Homo sapiens: one gene and its partners. The protein of the gene in region 1 purifies or fractionates together with the protein of each later gene. This does not show direct contact. Each region holds a gene or a part of one and is shown on either strand. Other genes may lie near its edges.

What was found. Proteins that work in one complex are often made in the same cells at the same time.
Region 2: the proteins of RPP14 (region 1) and RMP24 purify together in Homo sapiens (affinity purification with mass spectrometry; 2 studies listed by BioGRID and IntAct, with this or other methods). This does not show direct contact.
Region 3: the proteins of RPP14 (region 1) and POP1 purify together in Homo sapiens (co-immunoprecipitation; 2 studies listed by BioGRID and IntAct, with this or other methods). This does not show direct contact.

The regions. Positions count from the first base shown.
Region 1 is NC_000003.12:58,302,222-58,310,908, forward strand, and holds the start of RPP14 (ribonuclease P protein subunit p14), read left to right. Parts: upstream 1-4,023; 5' UTR 4,024-4,196; intron 4,197-4,298; exon of another isoform or gene 4,299-4,430; intron 4,431-8,087; 5' UTR 8,088-8,108; coding exon 8,109-8,185; intron 8,186-8,285; coding exon 8,286-8,370; intron 8,371-8,687. UniProt on the Homo sapiens protein: Component of ribonuclease P, a ribonucleoprotein complex that generates mature tRNA molecules by cleaving their 5'-ends.
Region 2 is NC_000018.10:35,974,793-35,980,556, forward strand, and holds the end of RMP24 (UPF0711 protein C18orf21), read left to right. Parts: intron 1-103; coding exon 104-303; intron 304-2,617; coding exon 2,618-2,808; intron 2,809-4,042; coding exon 4,043-4,214; 3' UTR 4,215-4,486; downstream 4,487-5,764.
Region 3 is NC_000008.11:98,112,057-98,121,070, forward strand, and holds the start of POP1 (ribonucleases P/MRP protein subunit POP1), read left to right. Parts: upstream 1-5,236; 5' UTR 5,237-5,334; intron 5,335-5,783; exon of another isoform or gene 5,784-5,809; intron 5,810-9,014. Other genes in the region: RIDA (2-iminobutanoate/2-iminopropanoate deaminase), read right to left, coding at 4,976-5,040. UniProt on the Homo sapiens protein: Component of ribonuclease P, a ribonucleoprotein complex that generates mature tRNA molecules by cleaving their 5'-ends. Also a component of the MRP ribonuclease complex, which cleaves pre-rRNA sequences.

The sequences.
Region 1 (8,687 bases):
TGATGGAATAATGTGAGCAAGTTAGCTGGTACTTGGCAAATCTCCCTAAACTATGTGATCTTATTCTCGAAACAGAAACAATGGCTACAGTTCCATAGGTTTTAACTTCTGATCATTTTCACTTCCTTTGTCCTATCTCCACAATCTGCTGACATAGGGGGTGTTTTCCATTAAATCAATGGAGAACAGGGGGACTGGAATCTCACTTGGACCCTTCTCTCTTGCCTTTTCTTCCCCAAGTTGAGAAAGCTCCTCAGCTTTAGAAAAATCCATTTGGCACCAATAAGTAAGGCAGGGAGGGGAGCCACACAGCAGAGGGGAAGTGTGGACTTAACTCATTCTTGGCTGCCGTACCTTTCAGGGACATAAAATAGAGACCGACCCCAACAACTTTGCTCTGAAACACAGAGGGTACCTGAAATGGTCCTCTTAAGAACTAACTGGCTCCACCCAATGCAGTACAGGGTAACTTTCATAAAGACTGAGGCAGCTAACCTGGGCAACATAGCAAGATCCCCTCTCTAAAAATAAAAATCAAAAAAATTAGCCAGGTGTGGTGACACATGCCTGTAGTCCCAGCTCCTCTGGAGGCTGAGGCAGGAGGATCACTTGAGCCCAGGAGTTTGAGGCTGCAGTGACCTATGTTTGCACCACTGTACTCCAGCCTGGACCACAGAGTAAGACCCTGTCTCCAAAAAAAAAAAGAAAAAAAGACTGAGGCAGCCTTGTGTGTTTTGATTTGGAGCAATTTTAGATACATCGTCAAGAGGTAAAAGCCCCCATATCATATTTTTCAGGGGACACTTAAGAAACTCATACTAGTTGTTGCTCCTGGAGAGGGGAGAGGCTGACAGGGGAAGAGGTGGAAGGGAGACTCACTTTTTAATATCTATCCCTTTATGTCATTTGAAATGTATGCTGTAAGCCTACAGTACCTATTCAGAAGATAAAATTTAGGCATGGTGCAGTGCCTCACACCTGTAATCCCAGCATTTTGGGAGGCCAACGCAGAAGGATCGCTTGAGCCTAGGAGTTCAAGACCAGCCTGAGCAACATGGTGAGACCCTGTTTCTACAAAAAAATTAAAAATTAGCTGGCCATGGTGGCATGCACCTGTAGTCCCAGCTACTTGGGAGGCTGGGGTGGGAGGATCGGTTGAGCCTGGGAGGTTGAGGCTACAGTGACCCATGATCACATTATTGTACTACAGTCTGGGTGACAGTGAGACACTGTCCAAAAACGATTTTTTAATATAAAATTTAGTTGAAAAACAAAAGTTTTTTTTTGTTTTTTGTTTTGTTTTGTTTGTTGGCAGAGTCTCGCTCTGTCATCTCGGCTAGAGTGCAGTGGCGTGATCTCAGCTTACTGCAACCTCTGCCTCCTGGGTTCAAGCAATTCTCCTGCCTCAGCCTCCCGAGTAGCTGGGATTACAGGTGCGCACCATCACACCCAGCTAATTTTTGTATTTTTAGTAGAGACAGGGTTTCGCCATGTTGGCCAGGCTGGTCTTGAACTCCTGACCTCAGGTGTTCTGCCCACCTCGGCCTCCTAAAGTGCTGGATTACAGGCCTGAGCCACAACACCCAGCCAAAAAACAAGTTTTTTGTCTTTATCATTCAAAGGCATCTCTTTTATCCTCCGCTCTGAATTAATAAGACAGCATGAGAGAATTCAGGCAACTGGGAAGACACTTCATTTTCAGGGTTTGTTGCAGCAGGGTGAAAATTATCTATTGTTCCTTGAAGTTCAAAATACAGGAATTGCTCTGGTTTTCCTGGGCCACCTGGCAGGATACATTTGCCAGGCAGCTGGCTTACAGGAACCCTCTCCCATTACTGAGGGTTTCCTGGGGTGCCAGACACTTTATACCATCAACTCTTTTTCCCTCAACTCTGTGAGGTAGATGCTAATAATCTCTCCATGTGACAGATGAGGGAGGTAGGTAAGTGGCAGAGGATGCATTTGAAGCAAGTTCTGGCAGCTTCTGAAATCAAGCTTTTTTGAGAAAGATAATACTTGGGTCTGTGGGGTCTGTGTTTGCTTTCTCCACCTCTTCCCACATCTGGAACAAGCCCTGTCTCCTCTGAAGGAAGAAGAAAGTAGGAACCACAGAACTGGAGAGCATGGCCAAGGTTGAGGACTGAAGCTTCTGGAAACAACACAGTGGGATTTTGAGAAAATAATTGAGGAAGGAGATCCCCGCTGACTCAACTGTCCTGTGCAAGGCAACCCTTTGCCCCCCAACCCAAGCAAAACCAGCACATCCATTTATGAACAAATGCCTTCAGTAAATAGATGTTGGGTCACCATTGGGTACCAGGAACTGGGATGCAGTGGTGAGAAACACAGACAAGGCCCCATCCTCATGGGGGTTACACTAAAGTTTCCCTTCCCACTGCAGCCCCTCAATTGGTGGTAATACAGTGCAGTATGGAGAGCACTGGCTAGAATCAGACAGCCCATGCCACTGCTTATAACTGTGATCTTGAGCAAATAACTTAGCCTCTCTGTGCCTCAGTTTCTTTTCCTGTTGCCAGGCTAGAGTGCAGTGGTGTGATCTCGGCTTACTGCAACCTCTACCTCCCAGGTTCAAGCAATTCTCCTGCTTCAGCCTCCCGAGTAACTGGGATTACAGGTGTGCACCACCGTGCCCAGCTAATTTTTGTATTTTCAGTAGAGATGGGGGTCTCACCATGCTGGCCAGGCTGGTCTCGAATTCCTGGCCTCAAGTGATCTGCCCGCCTCAGCCTCCCAAAGTGCTGGAATTACAGGCATGAGCCACTGCGCCTGGCCTGTGCCTCAGTTTCTACCTCTAAAATGGTGATGATCATAGTAATAGCCATCTCAGGATTGTGTGAGGGTTCCATGAGATGACATATGTAAAATATTTTGCATAGTGCCTAGCACAAAGTAAGTCTTTACTTTGTGGGTCTTTCCAGGACGGCCTAGATAGAACACCTACTATGTGCTGGGAGTCACAAGGGACACTGAGAGTGGGTCCTATCTTTGGGGAGTGCTTGACATAGGAGATCTTGAGGAGAGGAGATGCTAGATATAATTTTGTAGGCTGGGCGCGGTGGCTCACGTCTGTAATCCCAACACTTTGGGAGGCGAGGTGGGTGGATTGCCTGAAGTCAGGAGTTTGAGACCTGCTTGGCTAACATAGTGAAACCCTGTCTCTACTAAAAATACAAAAATTAGGCCAGGCGCGGTGGCTCACGCCTGTAATCCCAACACTTTGGGAGGCCGAGGTGGACAGATCACGAGGTCAAGAGATTGAGACCATGCTGGCCAACATGGTGAAACCTCGTCTCGACTAAAAATACAAAAATTAGCTGGGCATGGTGGTGCATGCCTGTAGTCCCAGCTACTTGGGAGGCTGAGGCAGAAGAATCACTTGAAGGGAGGCGGAGGGTGCAGTGAGCCAAGATGGCGCCACTGCACTCCAGCCTGGGCGACAGAGCGAGACTCCATCTCAATAAATAAATTATAATATAATGAAAAAAATGTGTAGAATGACTCGGGCGCAGTTGCTCACGTCTGTAATCCCAGCACTTTGGGAGGCCAAGGTGGGCAGATCACTTGAGGCGAGGAGTTCGAGACCAGCCTGGCCAACATGGTGAAACCCCGTCTCTACTAAAAATACAAAAATTAGCCAGGCATGGTGGAGCATACCTGTAGTCCTAGCTACTCAGGAGGCTGAGGTGGGAGAATCGCTTGAGCCCTGGAGGCGGAGGTAGCAGTAAGCCAGATCGCGCCAGTGCACTCCAGCCTGGGCGACAGAGTGAAACTGTCTCAAAAAAACAACGAAAAAATTGTTGAATGAATGAATGAATGCATGAAGAAATGGATAACTATGAAGCACCGTCCAAGGCGGAAAAAACCCGCCCTAAACCGCACCCCAAGCAAATTGCACACACGGCTTTCCCGGAGTGGACACCAGAGGGCGCTGAGCTCGGCCGCTCTCAGCTCCGGATCAGGATTCGCGCCTGGGTCCTTAGGACGACGCCGCGTGGTGACGTCATATCCGCCTGGGCGTCACGCTTCGTGGGGCGGGACGAGGAGAAGCCAAACGTAAAGACACCAGGAGTTTCTCGGGCCCAGCTGTGGCTGCTGCCGGGGAGCCCCAAGCCTTGGCGGGTCCTTGCGGCGAATAGGAGTCTGGTCAGGCGTCAGGCTAGTCCGACGAAGAGTGGGTAGGTGGAAGCCTTCCAAAGAGCGGCGGTTGTCTGGGAGCCGTCTCAGTTGGCCGCGACCCGGGCGCATGCGCGGGGCGGGCGGTGCGCCTTGGGTAGCTTGTCCTCTCCGACCCCGGGCGCTGAGGGCCTCTGTACGGCGCCGCGTAGGGTCTCGGCCGCAGAACGTGGCCGAGAGGCCCGGGCGAGACTTCGGGACCGTGTCCTGAGCGCTCTCCATGCGCCCGGCGCGAGGTGAGCGCTAAATAGTGGTTGTTGAAAAATATTGAAAGCCACCCAAGTGCTCAGCAGTAAGGATATTGAGCTTTTTAAAGTGATTGATTTAGTCCAAAAATTGTACGTCGCACGCCCACTGTGCACGACCCAGTGTTTTAGGGCCTTGGGAAACAGCAGTGAACAAGATAGCAAGATTCTTGGAGTGGACTTTTGTTGGGGTGGGGAGGGGAAGTACAGATAAAGATAAACGAGTTACATAATTGTCATAGAAAAAGGCAAATGCTACGAAGAAGAAAGCAGGGACGGGGCATGGGGGTGGGGTGCGGTGTTAGCCGAGAAGGGCACTGGGCCAACCCGATTGAGATTTGAGCTAAGCCAGGAAGGGGGCAAGGGTGTGAGTCCGGTGGCTGCCTGGAGGAAGATCTTTCCCAGCATGGGGAAAAGCTAGAGCCGAGGCCCAGCGGTGGGAGCGAGACTGGCGCGTGAGAAAGAGCTAGGCTAGGCCTGTGTGGTGGCGGGGATTGAGCGGAGGGAGAATGGCAGGACATGAAGTCAGAGGTGTAGAGGGAGCAGTCCTGCAGGTGAGGCAGAGCCTTGCAGGCTGCTCTAAGGACTTTGGCCTTACTCTGGATAAAACGGGAACCATAGCAAGATTTTGAGCAGAGGAATGATGTAGCTTGAGTAGATGTTAATAGACTCACTGGCCGCCGTAGGGATGGAGAAGCGGGGGAGTAGGGAGAATCAGATTTATTACTAATAGGTCAGATTAGGAGCATCCCTGCGCAGCCACTAAAAAAGGCTGACTCTAGGCCGGGCGCGGTGGCTCATGCCTGTAATCCCAGCACTTTGAGGGGGCCGAGGTCGGCGGATCACTTGACGCCAGGAGTTCGAGACCAGCCTGGGCCAACATGGCGAAACCCCATTTGTACTAAAAATACAAAAGTTAGCTGGGCGTGATGACGTACGCCTGTAATCCCAGCTACTCAGGAGACTGAGGAGCGAGAATTGCTTCGACCCAAAGCACTCCAGCCTGGGCGACAGAGTGAGACTCCATCTCAAAACAAACAACAAGACTGACTTTAAAGATGACGATGACAGTAACTTCGTGAGCCCACATCTGTGGAGAGCCTGGTGAATATATTTAATACCAGTCTGTACAAAATAATTTCCCAGGTATCCTCTCCTTTAATGTCAGAACAGCCTGCAGAGGGCAGTGCTGTCATTTGTAAGTCTTTTTTTTTTTTTTTAATTGCAAAAAATACGTGACATAAAATTTATCGTAAGTAGCATTGAGTACATTCACAACGCTGTGCAGCCATCACCACTGTCCATCTCGTGAATGTTGTGTAAGTCTTCGTTTTACTGGCATCTAAGCCCTGGGTCTAATTTCACTCCCCTATTTTAGGCAGCCAGCTCCATCAAGGCAGTAACACTAAAAAACATTTATGTGCCAAGCAATGAAAGAAACAGATGAGGTTTCTTGTTCTCCCTGCCCTTCTAGTTAGGGGAGACTCTAGTGACTGGGAAAGAAGCATCAGGTAACTATTTCCGCTGTCCTGAAACCAAGGATTCTTTTGAATATATAGGCCTATACCACTATCACTTTTCTCTCATTTGAATACCTACTTTGTGTCATAGTATTACAGTATTTTTTGTTTGTTTGTTTTGGAGACAGGGTCATGCTCTGTCACCCAGGCTGGAGTGCAGTGGTACAATCACAGTGCACTGTATCCTTAACCTCCCAGACTCAAGCTATCCTCCCACCTCAGCCCCTGGAGTAGCTGGGACTACAGGCACACACTACCATGCCTGGTTAATTTAAGTTTTTTTGTTTTTTTTTTTAGTGACAGGGTCTCACTATGTTTCCCAGGCTGGTCTCAAACTCCTGGCCTCCCAAACTGTTGAGATTACAGGCATGAGCACCACGCCAGGCCCCAAAGTATTAATGTTTGTTGAATGGATTGGTAGATGTAGCTCCTTGACCCTGACTTCTTTTCTCCAGAGGTCATCATCTGGGAGTGGTTGGAACTGGGTCTAACCCAGAGTGGTTTTGAAATGCTGGTCCATAGCTCTGTGACCTTGGATAAGTCCCTTTCCTTGATTGGGCCTCAGTTTCCTGTTCCCTGTAGTGGGGGATCCATATATTAAACAAATAGACAGTGTTAAGAGATTGCATAACATGGGGGCTTAACTTAGAGAAGGGTGTCAGAGAAGACCTTCATGAAGAGGTGGTATTTAAACTGAAAGTTGAAGGATGAATAGGACCTATCCAGAGGGAGAGCAAGGTTGGCATGGAGCCAAGGAAAGGAACTGTCTACAGAGAGATGAGCATGTTCTACGTTCTTGAAAGTTCAGACCTTTTAGAAGCTGCATTGAGTGCCCCTTCCAGGAATCCCTCTTCTCAACCCCTGTGCTGTTTAAGCTCAGTTGTTCACAGATAGTCTTGCACAGACCTGGCTTTTGGACTGAGAGCAGGCAGACACAGGATGGGAGGAGACGGCAGAACGACCATCCCTCATTCTTCTCTTTGTGTTCTGTGTTGACTGAGAGTAAACAAGAAGAGGACCTTCAAATCTTAGATTTTACTCCTTTATGTCTTTTCTTTTTCTTTGGATAAAGAGGCATCGTAACTGGTCTTGAGTGGGCTCAGAGTGGTTGGAATCTCTGGGCACCCTTGGGCAGATGTTACCTACGTTTACTAAACCTCTGTGTCATCTTCTCGAAAATGGGAATAATAATACCTCTTACCTCAGGAGCATTTTGAAGACAAGCTAAGGCATGTGAAATGTTTAGCAAAGAGCTGGGTGCTCATAAGGAAAATTGTTAGCCAAAATTATGTTGTTATGTTTTAAGTAAGAGTACAGTGATTTGACATTTATAGAATATAGAAACTTATTTTGTATTCGTATGGGTAACCTTAGTTTGATCAGAATTAGATGAGTTACTGTGCTCAGAAGTCTTAAAAACCAAACAGGAGGCCAGGCACAGTGGCTCACACCTGTAATACCGGCACTCTGGGAGGCCGAGGCAGGCGTATCACGAGGTCAGGAGTTCGAGACCAGCCTGACCAATATGGTGAAACCCTGTCTCTACTAAAAATACAAAAAAGGTAGCCGGGCGTGGTAGCACATTCCTATAATCCCAGCTACTCGGGAGGCTGAGGCAGGAGAATTGCTTGAATCCGCGAGGCAGAGGTTGCAGTGAGCCAAGATTGTGCCACTGCACTCCAGCCTGGGCGACAGAGCAAGACTCCTTCTCCAAAAAAAAAATAATAATAACAGGAAGGCCGGGCCTGGTGGCTCACACTTGTAATCCCAGCACTTTGGGAGGCTGAGTTGGGCAAATTGCTTGAGCCCAGGAGTTTGAAACCAGCCTGGGCAACATGGTGAAACCCTGTCTCTACAAAAAATACAAAAATCTGCTGGATGTGGTGGCACGTGCCTATACTCCCAGCTACTCAGGAGTCTGAGGCAGGAGGATCACCTGAGCCTCGAGAGCCAGAGGTGGAGGCTGCAGTGAACTCTGATTGTACCACTGCACTTCAGCCTAGGTGACAGGGTGAGACCCTGCCTTAAAACAAACAAACAAAAAAAACCCAAATAGGCCAAATTCTCATCAAAACTCTGAAAAATAGCATGTGCATTGGTCATTTCTAGCCCTCTTGACTTACTGTAGGTGTGATCAGCACTGGAAAAGATGCCTGCCCCTGCTGCCACATATGAAAGAGTAGTTTACAAAAACCCTTCCGAGTACCACTACATGAAAGTCTGCCTGTAAGTTTAGTTTCCTAAGTTCTATTTTAGATTACTTTTCTAACATGAATCTGAATAGAATGAAATTTAATATGACTTTTTTTTTTTTCACTTTTTTTAGAGAATTTCAAGATTGTGGAGTTGGACTGAATGCTGCACAGTTCAAACAGCTGCTTATTTCGGCTGTGAAGGACCTGTTTGGGGAGGTATGGAATCACTTGGTAGATTGAACATTCCAAAGATCTTTGTAAGAAATACAGAAAGAGGCCGGGCGCGGTAGCTCACGCCTGTAATCCCAGCACTTTGGAGGCCGAGGTGGGCAGATCATGAGGTCAAGAGATCGAGACCATCCTGGCCAACATGGTGAAACCCCATCTGTACTAAAACTGCAAAGATAAGCTGGGTGTGGTGGCAGGCACCTGTAATCCCAGCTACTCGGGAGGCTGAGGCAGGATAATTGCTTGAACCCGGGAGGCAGAGGTTGCAGTGAGCCGAGATAACGCCACTGCACTCCAGCCTGGCA
Region 2 (5,764 bases), on another chromosome or scaffold:
CTGCTTATATTAAATTTCAATATACTTTTTATAAATGTTGACAGTTTGAGGTAACAAAATATTCTGATTTGCTGAATTGTGAGTTTCATTTGTATAATTTTAGATGATAAGAGCACTTTTGAAGAAACGTGTCCATACTGTTTCCAGCTGTTGGTTCTGGATAACTCTCGAGTGCGTCTCAAACCCAAAGCCAGGTTGACACCCAAAATACAGAAACTTCTTAATCGAGAAGCGAGAAACTATACACTCAGTTTTAAAGAAGCAAAAATGGTGAAAAAGTTCAAAGACTCCAAAAGTGTATTGGTAAGATTTCAGTTCCAGTATGTATGAGTAAACTAGAATTTTCTTTTCTTTCACTTAAAATCAGTTTAAGAATCAGCCTCAGTATAACTCAGAGATTTATAGTAGTATATTTGGATTATCAAAATATATACATAAACACTTCTCTAATGATTAGTGTTTCATTATAAGGACAGCTTACTTTTATTTTTCATGATTACCTAAACCAAACATGGTGAGCTCTCAATTGTTTTGAGATCCCATTGTTGAGCATTATTTTTCACAAATGTGCGGATTTCTTGAACTGACCGTTATGGCTCCACCTAAATTGCAGTTACCACTACATTATTTTTTCAGTTAATGCTCCTTTGCTTCAGATAGTACTATGTTATGTATGTAGGTATCATGTCACTTCTTCAGCTGTCCTCCCACTCCATGTCAGAGTGGATTTACAGGTATGCCCAACAAAGGTGAATGCATCTTTTGTTCTTTCAACATTTTATTGAGGGTCTATCATATGCCAAGCAACATTTAATATTGGGGATATAAGATGGAATAAAACAACCAAAATCAGATTACGTACGGTTTACTATATGGAGGCCAGTAGCAAATACACTTTATATCCCTGCATATTTTATGTTAACATTTATCAACTGTTCAAGTGCCTGCTTATTGTCTATCACTGTGCCGGGCACTGGACATTATGACAGCTTATGTCTGGCCTAAGACTATAATTAGCAATTACTTGGATTGAAAATTGTCATATTTAGGAGTTTACCAGTGTTGGTCAGGTAGGTGCATTTTGCTTTGTCATAAAATTGAATGGTTAAAGGGAAAGAAAGAAGAGATAGAATATTGAAGTGAGTATGGAATTCGGTTTCTTAGTTCTTGGAGAATTGTATTTTTCAAAAATCATTACTGCCACATATTTGGAAAATGTTCTTAAATGGGAAGACAGCAAATGCTGCCTCACTATCTTGCAGTGTTTTGCCCTCATGAAGCTTACATTCTAATGTATTTTAATCAGAAGTCAGCTAGAAAGGTGCTAGAGGTATTTGTTTTTCTGATTTTTTTTTTTTTTTTTTTTTTTTTTTTTGAGACGGAGTCTCCCTCTGTCGCCCAGGCTGGAGTGTAGTGGCGTGATCTCGGTTCACTGCAAGCCCCACCTCCTGGGTTCACGCCATTCTCCTGCCTCAGCCTCCTGAGTAGCTGGGACTACAGGTGCCCACCACCACGCCCGGCTGATTTATTTTAACCTGTATACAGCCTCCTTCCAAAAAGTGTAAAGCAACATAGACCTTTGATAGATGCAGATCTTCCATTGGCATTTTCATCTGCTCATGAACATCAAACTACTTCTCACTTAAACTAGTTTGTATTAATTTGCCGAGGCATGGGCTGAGTCCTGTGCACAGTCAATTAGATATGTAGAAGAAAGGAAATTAGCTAGAAAATGGACCATTTCTTGAGAAATGAATCTTGAAAAGAAAGACAACCTCTAGAGCTAATGATGGGAGTGGAGAGGTGTGAGAGTATAACAACTCATTTGGTTGTATAAGTTACTTTAGACCTATGTTTACAAAATTGCTAAGGATTTGAAGGGGCTACTTAAATTTCCAGTGATACTGTGCCATGTTGTTTTTGGGAAGAGGCTTGAAGTTCATCTGCAAAAAAATATTAAATGCTTACTGCTGTTACAAAGAACATTCCTCCAGATGTTAAAGAGTATTATCTCCCATCTCTTCCCAAATTCCCACCAAACATGGTTTTATATTTAAAAAGTAGAGTTCATTATCTTTGAAAACCTATTTTAAATTAAATACAAATGTTTAGCCATTCATTTTTATTGAACATTTTCTCATTTAAAATTTGTCGGCTGGGCACAGTGACTCAAGCCTGTAATCCCAGCATTTTGGGAGGCCGAGGCGGGTGGATCGCCTGAGGTCAGGAGTTCAAGACCAGGCTGGCCAACATGGCGAAACCCTGCCTACTAAAAATACAGAATTAGCCAGGCACAGTGGAAGGCGCCTGGTCTCAGCTACATGGGAGGCTGAGGCAGGAGGATCACTTGAACCCAGGAGGCAGAGGTTGCAGTGAGCTGAGATCACGCCACTGCACTCCAGCCTGGGGACAGAGCAAGACTCCGTCTCAAAAAAAAAAAAATGTCTTGTCTGATTCTCGCTACTAGATTGCAAGTTCCCCAAGGACAGCCTCTATTTTACTTACCCCTATAGTATCTGGTGTAGTCCCTGACATTTAAGAATTCAATGAACCTGTGGTTTATGGGGTTAAATTATAAGATAAATGACGGGACTGATATTTCTTATTTTTATGGTAGTTGATCACTTGTAAAACATGCAACAGAACAGTGAAACATCATGGTAAAAGTAGAAGCTTTGTGTCAACATTGAAGAGCAATCCTGCCACTCCTACAAGTAAACTCAGCCTGAAGACACCAGAGAGAAGGACTGCAAACCCAAATCATGACATGTCTGGCTCGAAAGGCAAGAGCCCAGCATCGGTTTTCAGGTATCTTAATCCATGAAGTTTTTGAATTGCCAGTGTTAAGTGTTTTCTTCTAATTTCCTGTGTTTAATATATACTCCCTAAATATGCCATGCATTTCAGGACTTGGCCATTTTTCCTCCATACCCTTTTCTAATGTCACATACTCCCATATCTTCAATGCTCATTTCAATGCATTTGACTTCTAGGTATGTTACTCTACTTCCAACATCTCCTGTGCCTATTTCCAGCTGCCTGCTAAATATAACCACTTCAGTCCCCTACATGTTCAAAACTTAGTTCATCATTGCCCCACAGCTAACCACTCAAACCTGTCCATCCTCCTGAGTTCCTTATTCTGTGAATGAACACACCTTTCTGGACATTTTGACCTAAAATGACAGGTACATTCAAAAATCCCTATTCCCTTGGTCCTTGTCACCGATTTCTATATATCCTACTTCCCTGTTTTCATCTTTTTGCTCCTTTTTCTCCATAGTGCTGCTATATTCTGGTTCAGGTCCTTATGCACCATTTGTCAGGACTACTGCAGTGATTTTCCTCATGGGTCTCCCTGCTTCTAGGATCAAACTCTTTTAGTGTGATCATCTTTCTGGAGCATAGCTCTGATTAGAAGCATCACTGTGTAGCATATGGATAAATGCTCTAGCATGGCTTTCCAGCCCTATCTGGCACCAGTCTGTCTGCCTGTCTTTCTTTGCCTTAAATCATCCTATGTGCCAACAAAACTGAACCATTCACGGCCGGGCATGGTGGCTCACACCTGTAATCCCAGCACTTTGGGAGGCTGAGGTGGGCGGCTCAGGAGTTCAAGACCAGCCTGTGCAACACGGTGAAATCCCATCTCTACTAAAATACAAAAGATTAGCCAGGCGTAGCGGCGTGCGCCTGTAGTCCCAGCTATTTGGGAGGCTGAGGCGGGAGAACTGCTTGAACCTGGGAGGCAGAGGTTGCAGTGAGCTGAGATGGCGCCACTGCACTCCAGCCTGGGCGACAGAGCGAGACTCCGTCTCCAAAAAAAAAAATACTGAACCATTCATAATACACTTTCTTGCCCTAAACATTTGTTCTTGCCCTTTTCTCTGTCAGAAATTCCTGAGGAAATCTAACTGAACAGGGATTTGTCAAATGATAATACACCGAGGATAGCCAGTGCATGTATATGGCCATAATACAAAAGAGTAGAAAATGATTGTCATTTGTTGGTATAACTAAGTGTGGTTTTGTTTCTTTTCAGAACACCTACATCTGGACAGTCAGTATCTACTTGCTCCTCAAAGAACACCAGCAAAACAAAGAAACACTTCTCTCAACTAAAAATGTTACTTAGTCAGAATGAATCCCAAAAGATTCCAAAGGTGGACTTCAGAAATTTCTTATCTTCTCTGAAGGGTGGACTTTTAAAATAAGAAATGCCTGATGTCAATTCTGAAACTAAAGTTGGTAAAACAACTTTTTAAACTCTTATTCATTTTTTGAATACATGGAAACTAGATCTGAATGCAAACTTTTCTTGGCATCCTTCAGTGTTTATGGGGAAAATACCTCATTAGTGTGAATACCTGAAACCTGCCTACCTCATAGGACAGCTGTGAGGATCAAAAAATATATGAAAGTTCCTTGTAGATACATATCTATAGATATATATGTGTATGTATATAAAGATAGATATATACATTGAGTAGTGGCATTACTGTTTTTTCTTCCTTTAGTCAGCAGTTTTTATTTATGTTATTGTCTTTCAAAAGGAAATTGAGATCTTTATGAGAGGGTCTATTCACTCAAGGGTTTCTTCCATGTGTCTATAGCATTGTTGATAATTCAGGAATAGGATCAAGTGGGTCCTTATTTTCTCACAATTATCTGCATAACTATCTTAGTAAAACCTGAACCTTATTCCTATTTTGATTGCAAAAGTAAATATCTGGAACATTCCTGATTATAGATCACTCAATAGGAAACTAAAATTTTCTTTCTTAGAAAAGGAAACATACTGTTGGTGATACTATAAATTAGTACAGCAACTTTGGAAAACAGTATGGAGGTTCCTCAAAAAACTAAAGGTAGAATTACCATATGATCCCATATCTGCATATATATCCAAAGGAATTGAAATCAGTATGTCAAAGAGATGTCTGCCCTACAGTGTTTCATTGTAGGATTATTCACAATAACCAAGATATGAAAACAACAGAAATGCTTGTCAAAGGATGGATTTTTGTAAATGTGTATATACACAATGGAATACTATTCAGCCTTTAAAAAGCAAGAAATTCTGTCAGTTATGATAACATGGATGAACCTAGCGGACATTATGCTAAGTGAAATAAGCCAGACACAGAGAGACAAATACTGTATTATTTACATGGGATCTAAAAAAGTAGAGCTCATAGAAGTAGAGGATATAATAGTGATTACTGGAGGCTGTGGTTGGGGGAGGGGAAATTTCAATTAAGAGGAATAAGTTCTATGATCTCTTGTACAGCATGATGACTCTAGTTAATGTATATTTCAAAATAGCTGAAAGAGGATTTTTGGCCTTTTTTTTTTTTTTTTTTTTTTTTTTAAGAGACAGAGTCTTGCTCTGTCATCTGGGCTGGAGTGCTATAGCATGATTATAGATCACTGTAGCCTTGAACTCCTGGGCTCAAGTGATCCTGTTGCCTCAGCCTCCAGAATAGCTGGAACTACAGACACACACCACTGCACCTGGCTAATATTTTATTTTAATTTTTTTCATTTCCCACTATAAGAAGCCATAATTTTTTTTATTTTTTGTAGAGGCAGGATCTTACTTTGTTGCCCAGGCTTGTCTTGAATTCCTGGCTTCAAGCAATCCTCCTAACTCAACCTCCCAAAGTGCTACGATTACAGGTGTGAGCCACAGTGCCCAGCCAAAAGAGGGTTTTTTAATGTTCTCGCCACAAAGAAATGATAAATGTTTGAGGTGATGGATCTA
Region 3 (9,014 bases), on another chromosome or scaffold:
GAAGATCTTTCCATAAGTATATGTAGAGTGCTTCCTCATTTTTTTTAACAGCTACATATGTTTTACAATATAGATGTACTTTATTTAATGAGTCACCATTGCTTCTGATATTTTGTTATCATAAATAAAACTATACTAAACACACACACACACACACACACACACACTTTCTCTAAGTAACTAAGCTTTTCTTTCCCCTGGATCCCAGGAGTGCTTTGGTTGTATCTTCCTTATACTATGTACAGGATCCTGCCTCGTGTTGTAACTCATCCTGTTATTATCCTGTCTCCCAAGGTATCTTAGACTCTAAACTCCTTGAGGTCAGGGTAATGTCTTACCATGTCTCTGTAGCTGTGTAGGGTGTAGGTGATTCCTTGCATACAGTAGGCACACTATAACTACTTGCTGATGTTTTGCTCTTTAACCACTTAGTAGCATAAACAATTTTGGTTGTCAGTGAATCTCTTTTTAGCAGGACCTGTTGACTTACAGCAAATGCTTTGGAGAGAGCTAAGGAGGTATGTTTAAACTTGATAACATGATTCAGAAAGTCTAGAAAGTCTTCTCAACTATCTGGCTTTCATACTGGCCCACAAATAGATAACTACTGAGTTTGTTAATTTGTAATCTTTTCTCGGGTTAAATAATACCATCAGTAACACTGTTTTTTATTAACTGTCCTGTGTAGAATTAGGCCGTCTGCCCTAGGTCCTGTGCAAAGTGCCTTCAGCTTTCCCCATATCTGAAACACACTTTAAGACCATATGCATTATTATTTATCAGAAACTTCATGATAGTAAAAAGAAACTCTTTTATTTTCAAAATATAAAAAGCAAGCACTGGAGCTGAGACCATCTGAGCTATGTGAGTTATCTCTTACAGATCTAAAGAGGTTTGTTCATAAGAATAATTGGCTAGTTGACACTTTCTGAGCATAAGAATCCTACTATCCAAAGACAAGTGGTTGGACTTCAGAAAATTTAAAAGTGCACTGTTCTACTACCAGGTTAAAGGGTAATCACACTTTCAAAAGCATTCTAATAATTCTCACATCATAGTCTATACCACACGGGCTACTGCTTCAAAAATTTATAATTATGAGGACGGTGTGCAAAATGCGCAATGCAAAGCAATGCAATGTTGAAATCTTTCAAGGTTCTGTCTGGAAGTATTCCTGAAATGTGCTGAGCTGATTGGCTAATTAGTGACAACACCCCATCCATCCCAATGCCAGGGACTGAAAGTTCAACACATTTGAATTCTTCCTGGAGAGGACCCAGGATTTTCAAAAAGTGTACTCACTACACACTCCACGCACAAAAACTCTTGTTCCCAAAAGGTTCCTAAAACATGTCCAATTAACATAAGTAGTTAGTTGCAGTCTGTTTTTTTTCTTAAACATTAACTATTGAAAATAAGCACCATTTCTAGTCACCTAGTGCACAAGAGGCACAATGTCCTGGAAGTCTCCACACCATGAAGCTGGCTGGTGGCTTTTTTTCTTGTCATACTGGCACATTCATATGATGATTCCCCTCTTTTTAGCTTTCAGCTTTATAAAGACAGTTGACTCCCACCTACCTTCAAGTCAACCAGGAACATTACTGTTATGCTTTCTTTCCTGAACAAAGTCCACAGAGTATCTCTAAATAGGTCAAGGAAGGGGTATGCTCTTTAGCAGGCTCCAGGACAAAGTGTCTCTAATAATCACTTTGATTTGGTTGTGTCCCTCTTGTTTGGAGGTAAAGATGTTTTTCTAAATGCTACCACTGTGTGATTGAGAGAAAGACATTAGGGCAGAAGGAGAAAAAAAATCACAAATTTTTACTTATAATATCCCCTAACTATTCTCACTTTCTTTACCTCCAAATTTCTATCAGAATTACTATCAGAATTCTTTTTAAAAGATCTGATCATGTTCCACCCTGCTTAAAAACATTTAGCCTGGGCAACATGGTAAAACCCCAGCTCTATAAAAAATACAAAAATTATCTGGGCATGGTGGCCTGAGCCTGTAGCCCCAGCTACTTGGGAAGCTGAGGTGGGAGGATGGCTTGAGCCCGGGAGGTTGAGGCGACAATAAGCTGTGATCCCGGCTCCAGCCTGGGTGACACAGCGAAACACTGTCTCAATATACACACATACAAACACACAACCACAACAACCACAAGAAAAAAACCACATTTAATTGTTCCTTATTATATACAAAATAAAGTTTATATTCTTCCATTTAGTATTGGAAACCACCACAACCTGTACCCTGCTAAAATCTTTTTTTTTTTTTTTTGAGACAGAGTCTCGCTCTGTAGCCCAGGCTGGAGTGCAGTGGTGCGATCTTGGCTCACCGCGACCTCTGCCTTCCAGGTTCAAGCAATTCACTGCCTCAGCCTCCCGAGTAGCTGAGATTACAGGCATACGCCACTATACCCAGCTAATTTTTTTTTTTTTTTGGTATTTTTAGTAGAGACGGGGTTTCACCATCTTGGCCAGGCTGGTCTTGAACTCCTGAGCTTGTGATCCACCTGCCTCGGCCTCCCAAAGTGCTGGGATTACAGGTGTGAACCACTGTGCCTGGCCAAAATCTAATTTTTGTTGGTCACTTTTATTTAATTCCCACAATAATCTTATCAAATGGTATTATTTATGCCCATTGAGAAGACAAAGAAGCAAACTAAGAGAGGTTAAGTCACTCTGCAAGATCATATAATTAAAAAGAGGCAAAACAAAAATTCAAATCCAAAGTCCAACTCTTAATCAGTATTTCTCAAAGGAGTCAGTCATACACAGTAAGACTTATACACAGTCTTACATAGTAAGAAAATGATTCCTTTTCCAATTTTTTTTTTCAATCTACACCAGGGACAACAAAGTAAATGATTAAGACTAGGCTCTAGTACCCATTTCCTAAATTCAAATTTTGTTACATCACTTTTTAGTGGTGTAACTTTTGGCAAATTATTTAATTTTGCACACATCAGTTTCTTCATCTGAAAAATAGGGACTATAATATAACCATGCACATAAATAACTTAGAACAGTGCCTGGTGCTGGCCAGGCATGGTGGCTGACACCTGTAATCCGAGTACTTTGGGAAGCCGAGGTAGGTGGATCGCTTTAGGTCAGGAGTTCAATACCAGCCTGACCAACACAGTGAAACCCTGTCTCTACTAAAAATACAAAAATTAGCCGGGTGTGGTGGCACCTGCCTGTAATCCCAGCTACTTGGGAGGCTGAGACATGAGAATCACTTGAATCTGTGGGGTGGAGGTTGCAGTGAGCTGAGATTGCACCACTGCACTCTAGCCTGGGCAACAGAGTGAGACTCTGCCTCCAAAAAAAAAAAAAAAAAAAAAAAAAAAGGGATAGTGCCCAATGCTGCTGAGTAAGCATCAGTAAATGTTAGCAATGATGACTCTACCCCGTTTGATTACATTAAGGAGAAAAAAAATCATCTTTAGAAAACAAATTAAAACATCACTTGAAAGTTTTTAATTAAACTTTTTTTTTTTTTTAAATAGAGATGGGGGTCTCACTATGTTGCCCAGGCTGGTCTTGAACTCCTGACCTCAAGCAATCCTCTTACCTCGGCCTCCCACAGTGCTGGGATTACAGGCGTGAACCACAGTACCCGGCTAAAGAAACATCACTCTTAACAAAGAGAGAGCAGGCCTCAGGTTTTGAGCCAACTGCAATATCTAGCTAAAATTTAATAATACCTTTTTTTAATTGAGTTTATTTTTTACTATTACTTTCTATTGAATTGTTTTCTATTTAGTGTACTGTTGTAAAGTTTCCTTTTTCAATTAACTTGTTAAATAAAATGAAGTGAGCCATCTCAAAGAAATAGGTTAAGTAAATTATAAGTGATATACAGATTTGGCAAACAAACAAACAAAAAAGACAGAAGTAGCACTTGAATTATGAAAACTTTCTCCCCAAAATCTTTATACCATGCATTCTTCTACCTCCATGCCCTCACTCAAGCCATTCCCTCTACCTGACTTCTACCTCCATGCCCTTCACTCAATGACTTCCTGTTGAAATCCTTAATAAATTAATTTAAAAATCAAACTTTACAACACTACTATAAATGACAAAACCAACCTTCAAAACCAAAGGACTACCTCTCACAAGGAACCTTCCTAAATCTTCTTTTTCCTCTTCCACCCCAAGTTAAAATCAATTTGTCTTTTTTCTCCTTTACTCCCTACCCCACTTGCCCTCTCACTTCTACTGCATTTTATTTATTTCCAAGTTTTCTATAATAATTCCTGTTCTGCCACATCTCAGTGCCTTTTCTCACAGCAGTAGGTTTAAAGGAGGGAGCTGTTGATGGGGCTCTTTTCAGTTGGGAGAGAGGCAGACCAAGTATGAAGCTAATGAAAGAAGTTGGTCATAAAGGACTGCATGTTTTATGATTCAATTTATAGGAAATGTCCACAACAAGCAAATCCATGAAGATGCAAGTAGATTGTCAGGGGCCGGGGGAGAGGAGAATGGGGAGTGAATGCTAATGGGGATGGGATTTATTTTTGGGGTGATGAAAATGTTCTGAAGAAAGTGGTGATGGCTGCACAACTCTGTGAGTATGGTCAAAACCACTGAATTGTACATGTTAAAGGGGGTGAATCTTACGGTACGTGAATTATATCTCAATAAAGCTGTTACCAAGAAAACAAAAACGACCCCCTCCCCCAAAACAAAACACAGGGTCTGAAGGCTTCTAACTGGGGAGAGCTTTCTGGCAGGCTGTGCTCCGCAGCGAGGCAGCCCCAGAACGAGCAAAGTCCCATGGAGTGCAGGTTCCTGGTCCCATCGTGGCTCCCAACTCTCTGTGGGTCTTCGGGCGCGTTGCTTACTTTCCAGGCTCAATTTCCTTGCGTGTTAGCTGGGGCTCCGGCCCGGAGTGGCCCCAACCCCGAATCCCCGAACCCGCACGCCCTGGGTCCGACACAGCTTCCACCAGCCACGTTACCTGTAGGGTCCAATGGCCCCTGGGGCTTTCGCGGTGCTGATCACCCTTCTGATCAAGGACGACATGGCTAAGCCTTCCCTCTTGCAGCCCCTTCAGGAGAAGAAGCCCCAGCACCAGCCCTGCTGGCTTCTTACTGGACTGACCAACCACAGCAGCGCCTCTGCCCCACAGCTCCCGCTGGGGGCGGGCTCGTGCGGCATTCTGGGAACTGTAGTTTCGGCGACGCTCCAGGCCACGTGGAGGAAGCGCCCGGTCTGGCGCATGCGCTCTCCAGCGCGCTCTCCAGGAGCTTTGGCTCGGTGGGTACTGTCGCGGAGGCTTGTCATTCTGACCCGGGGATTCCTCACAGCGTCTGGCAGGTTGGTCGTGAGGGGCTGGTGCCTTCCAGGATGCGAGTGTCGGGGGAACTGTATGCGGCGGCCCCCCTCCCGGCGCCCGTCTCCCCTCTTCATCGTTTCTCTCTCAGACTCCGCTGACCTCTTTCCTTGCTGCCTGTGCCCGGGGCCCCTCTCCCTGGTGTCGCATCTCCTTCGGCCCCTGCGCTGGAGCCCCCTACGTCAGTCATTTCCCTTCATTGCCCCGCCGGGTGGAGGCCGTCCTGGGAATGGGCTTGCATCCCCTCTTCTGCAACCCCAAATGACTAATATGGGTCATTCTGGCGACCACGCTGAGATCTGGGCGTTGGTCCTCCCGTGTTCCCTTTCCTGCTCCTCCTGTGTTCCCTTCTCTAGGGTGCTCCTCGGGCTTTACAAGGTCACTGTCTGAACAGAGCCCTAGTGATTGGGATATCATTTCAGAAAGAAAGATGGTGATCTGGAATGGCCCAGATCCCTTGTAAGTATTCTGCTGTGTCAGAAGGGGTGGTACTTGGCTAAATATTTCTTATCCTGTTAATATTTGCATTGTAAGTACGCTTCGTTTCTTCATTTATGCGGGCACTCATAGATATATGAGTCCCTACTTTGTGTAAGGCACTCTGCTAGATGCTAGGAGGAATGCAACAGTTAAAAAAAATAATAATAAAATCTCTGCCTTCCCTGCTTCCTAAAGATAATACAAGAAAATCTGCTTTATTCCCTCTCATTTTGTCCTACATACTGCTAAGGTTTTGGCCTTCCTACTTCCGGCTCAGGAACCTTCTGATCTTTTTCATTGGTTTGGGGCCTGGAATAAAAGACCTTTCAGTCTGGCCTCCCCTTGCCTATTCAAGTTTCATTGTCATCTACTCCCTTTTCCCACTAGAGTCCTCCTGTATTCACACTGTGGATTCCTGAATACTCTTTCTTCCTTATCTGTGCAAATTCCAGCTAACTGAAATTCTATTTTCTCTTTGACTTTTCCTACCAATTCACATTTTTTTCTTTTTCTTCTTTCCTTCCTTTCCTTTTCTTTTTCTTTGTTTTCTTTCTTTCAAGACAGGATCTCACTCTGTCACCCTGGCTGGAGTACAGTGGCATGATCTTGGCTCACTGAAACCTTGACCTCCTGGGCTGAAGCAATCCTCCAGCCTGAGCATCTCAAGTAGTTGGGATTACAAGTGCACACCAGCACGCCCGGCTAATTTTTGTATTTTCTGTGGAGACGGGGCTTCTTCATATTGGCCAGGCTGGTCTCCAACTCTTGGGCTCAAGCAATTCTCCCACCTCAGCCTCCCAAAGTGCAGGGATTACAGGTGTAACCATTATGCCCGGCCTCATTTTTTTTCTTTCCCTTGTCCTGTTTCCTATTGTGCTGTACCGCATAATTTAGTATTTTATTATATGAGATCCTATTTTCTAATTGTTATGTGTTTCAAGAATAGTGGATTGGAGAGGGAAGGGGTGGAAAAAAAAAAAAGAATAGTGGATAGAGTCAGACTGCCTGGTTTGAATCTCAGCACAATCACAAGCTTAGTAGCCTTGGACTGGTATATAAAATCTCTGTGCTTCGATTTCTTCATTTATAAGATGAGAATAATACTAGTGACCACAGAGTTGTGAGAATTAAATGAATAAGTCATGTAGAATAGTGCCTGCCACATCAAGTTCTCAATGCTGCCTAAGATGACAAAATTCTTATTCTACTTTGGAATTATACACAGCCTGAAACTATTGGGCACATAGTAGGTGCCCAAAAGTTTATTAAATCTGATTAAACTAGATAATTAAGACATATTTTTATTTACAAAATAATTCACCATTTAAGTTTTTAAATAAGAAGCTATTTTGGAGCATTACAAATGATTCAACTTGTGTAAAATATTTCTTGTGAAACAAGGTACCTTTATTCTTAAGACAGATTTTATATCAAGTCTGAATCACCAACTTTTTAGATCTGGAAGAAAATAGACATCATCTAGTTAGTTCCCAGGTTCTCAAACTGGGAACTAACTAACACCAAAGGTTGTGTCTGGCCAGAGGATACTAAGCTGTATCAGAAAACATAACGTATCCATTTTATTTGAAGATTTGGCGAAAATATTTTTATAAAGGCAGCACATATTTAGTGCTTATTAAAGTTTGACAAAACTGACTTGAAGGTGAAGGTAAGAGTTAAGATTCCTTCTGGAAACTTTTTTTTTTGAGACAGGGTCTTGCTCTGTCACCCAGGCTGGAGTGCAGTAATGTGATCAAGGCTCACTCACTGCAGCCTTGACCTCCCTGTCTCAAGCGATCTTCCCACTTCAGCCTCCCGAGTAGGTGGGACCACAAGCTCATAACTATGCCTAGCTTATTTTTTGATTTCTTTGTAGGGATGAGTTCTCACTATGTTGCTCAGGTTGGTTTCTCCTGAGCTCAAGCAATCCTCCCGCCTTGGCCTCCCAAAGTGCTGGGATTATAGATGTGAACCACCACACCAGGCCTCTGGAAACTTTTAAATTAAATCCTCAGACTTCATAAAGATGCATCCTATATTCATTCCCTTCTGCTGTTAGAGGACCACTGCCAGTTTGATTTCCTCATATTTTAGTCTGGACCCAAAGCTCAGGGATGTTCCCAAGGTTATCCTAATCCTCCAGCACCAACCTTTTCTTGGACCATTCTAATACTGAGGGGAGCTAGAGTTTCTATGGTGTTCTTGTCTAGCCTTGCTGGTGAGTTCTGATTCAAGCAGGTAACAGTAGGTTAACTAAGTTGTTTTGTAAAATATTTGGAATGGCTTTTAATGCAGACCGATCTGAATCATGTGCTTCACTAGCCAGCCAGTTCTGCAGAACTCCATTTACTTCCTTCATACTGTTTAATTTGAAAAATGTTTTTGCATGTAGATATAGCTGTCTTTCATTTAGTTGAAATTAGTGGAGTGAGACAGTGAAATGGCATCAATCCCTGCTATTTCATTTATTATTTAAGAATAATAGCTACCATAAACTGAGCATTTAGTTAGCATAAAGCCCCATGCTAAGTGAGTTGTGTATATGCATTTTGCAAAGCCAAAACCATGTACAGTATGTATATGTTTGTTCATTTTTTTATTTTGAGACAGAGTCTCACTCTATCGCCCAGGCTGGAGTGCAGTGGCGTGATCTCGGCTCACCACAATCTCCGCCTCCTGGGTTCAAAGGATTCTCGTGCCTCAGCCTCCCGAGCAGCTGGGATTACAAGCGCATGCCATCACACGTGGCTCATTTTTGTATTTTTTTTTTTTTTTCTTGAGACGGAGTCTTGCTCCGTCGCCCAGGCTGGAGTGCAGTGGCGCGATCTCGGCTCACTGGAAGCTCCGCCTACCGGGTTCACGCCATTCTCCTGCCTCAGCCTCCCGAGTAGCTGGGACTACAGGCGCCCGCCAACACGCCCGGCTAATTTTTTGTATTTTTAGTAGAGACGGGGTTTCACTGTGTTAGCCAGGATGGTCTTGATCTCCTGACCTTGTGATCCTTCTGCCTCGGCCTTCCAAAGTGCTGGGATTACAGGCGTGAACCACCGCTCCCGGCCTCATTTTTGTATTTTTTAGTAGAGATGGGATTTCACCATGTTTGCCAGGCTGGTCTTGAACTCCTGGCCTCAAGTGATCCACTCGCCTTGGCCTCCCATAGTGCTGGGATTACAGGCATAAGCCA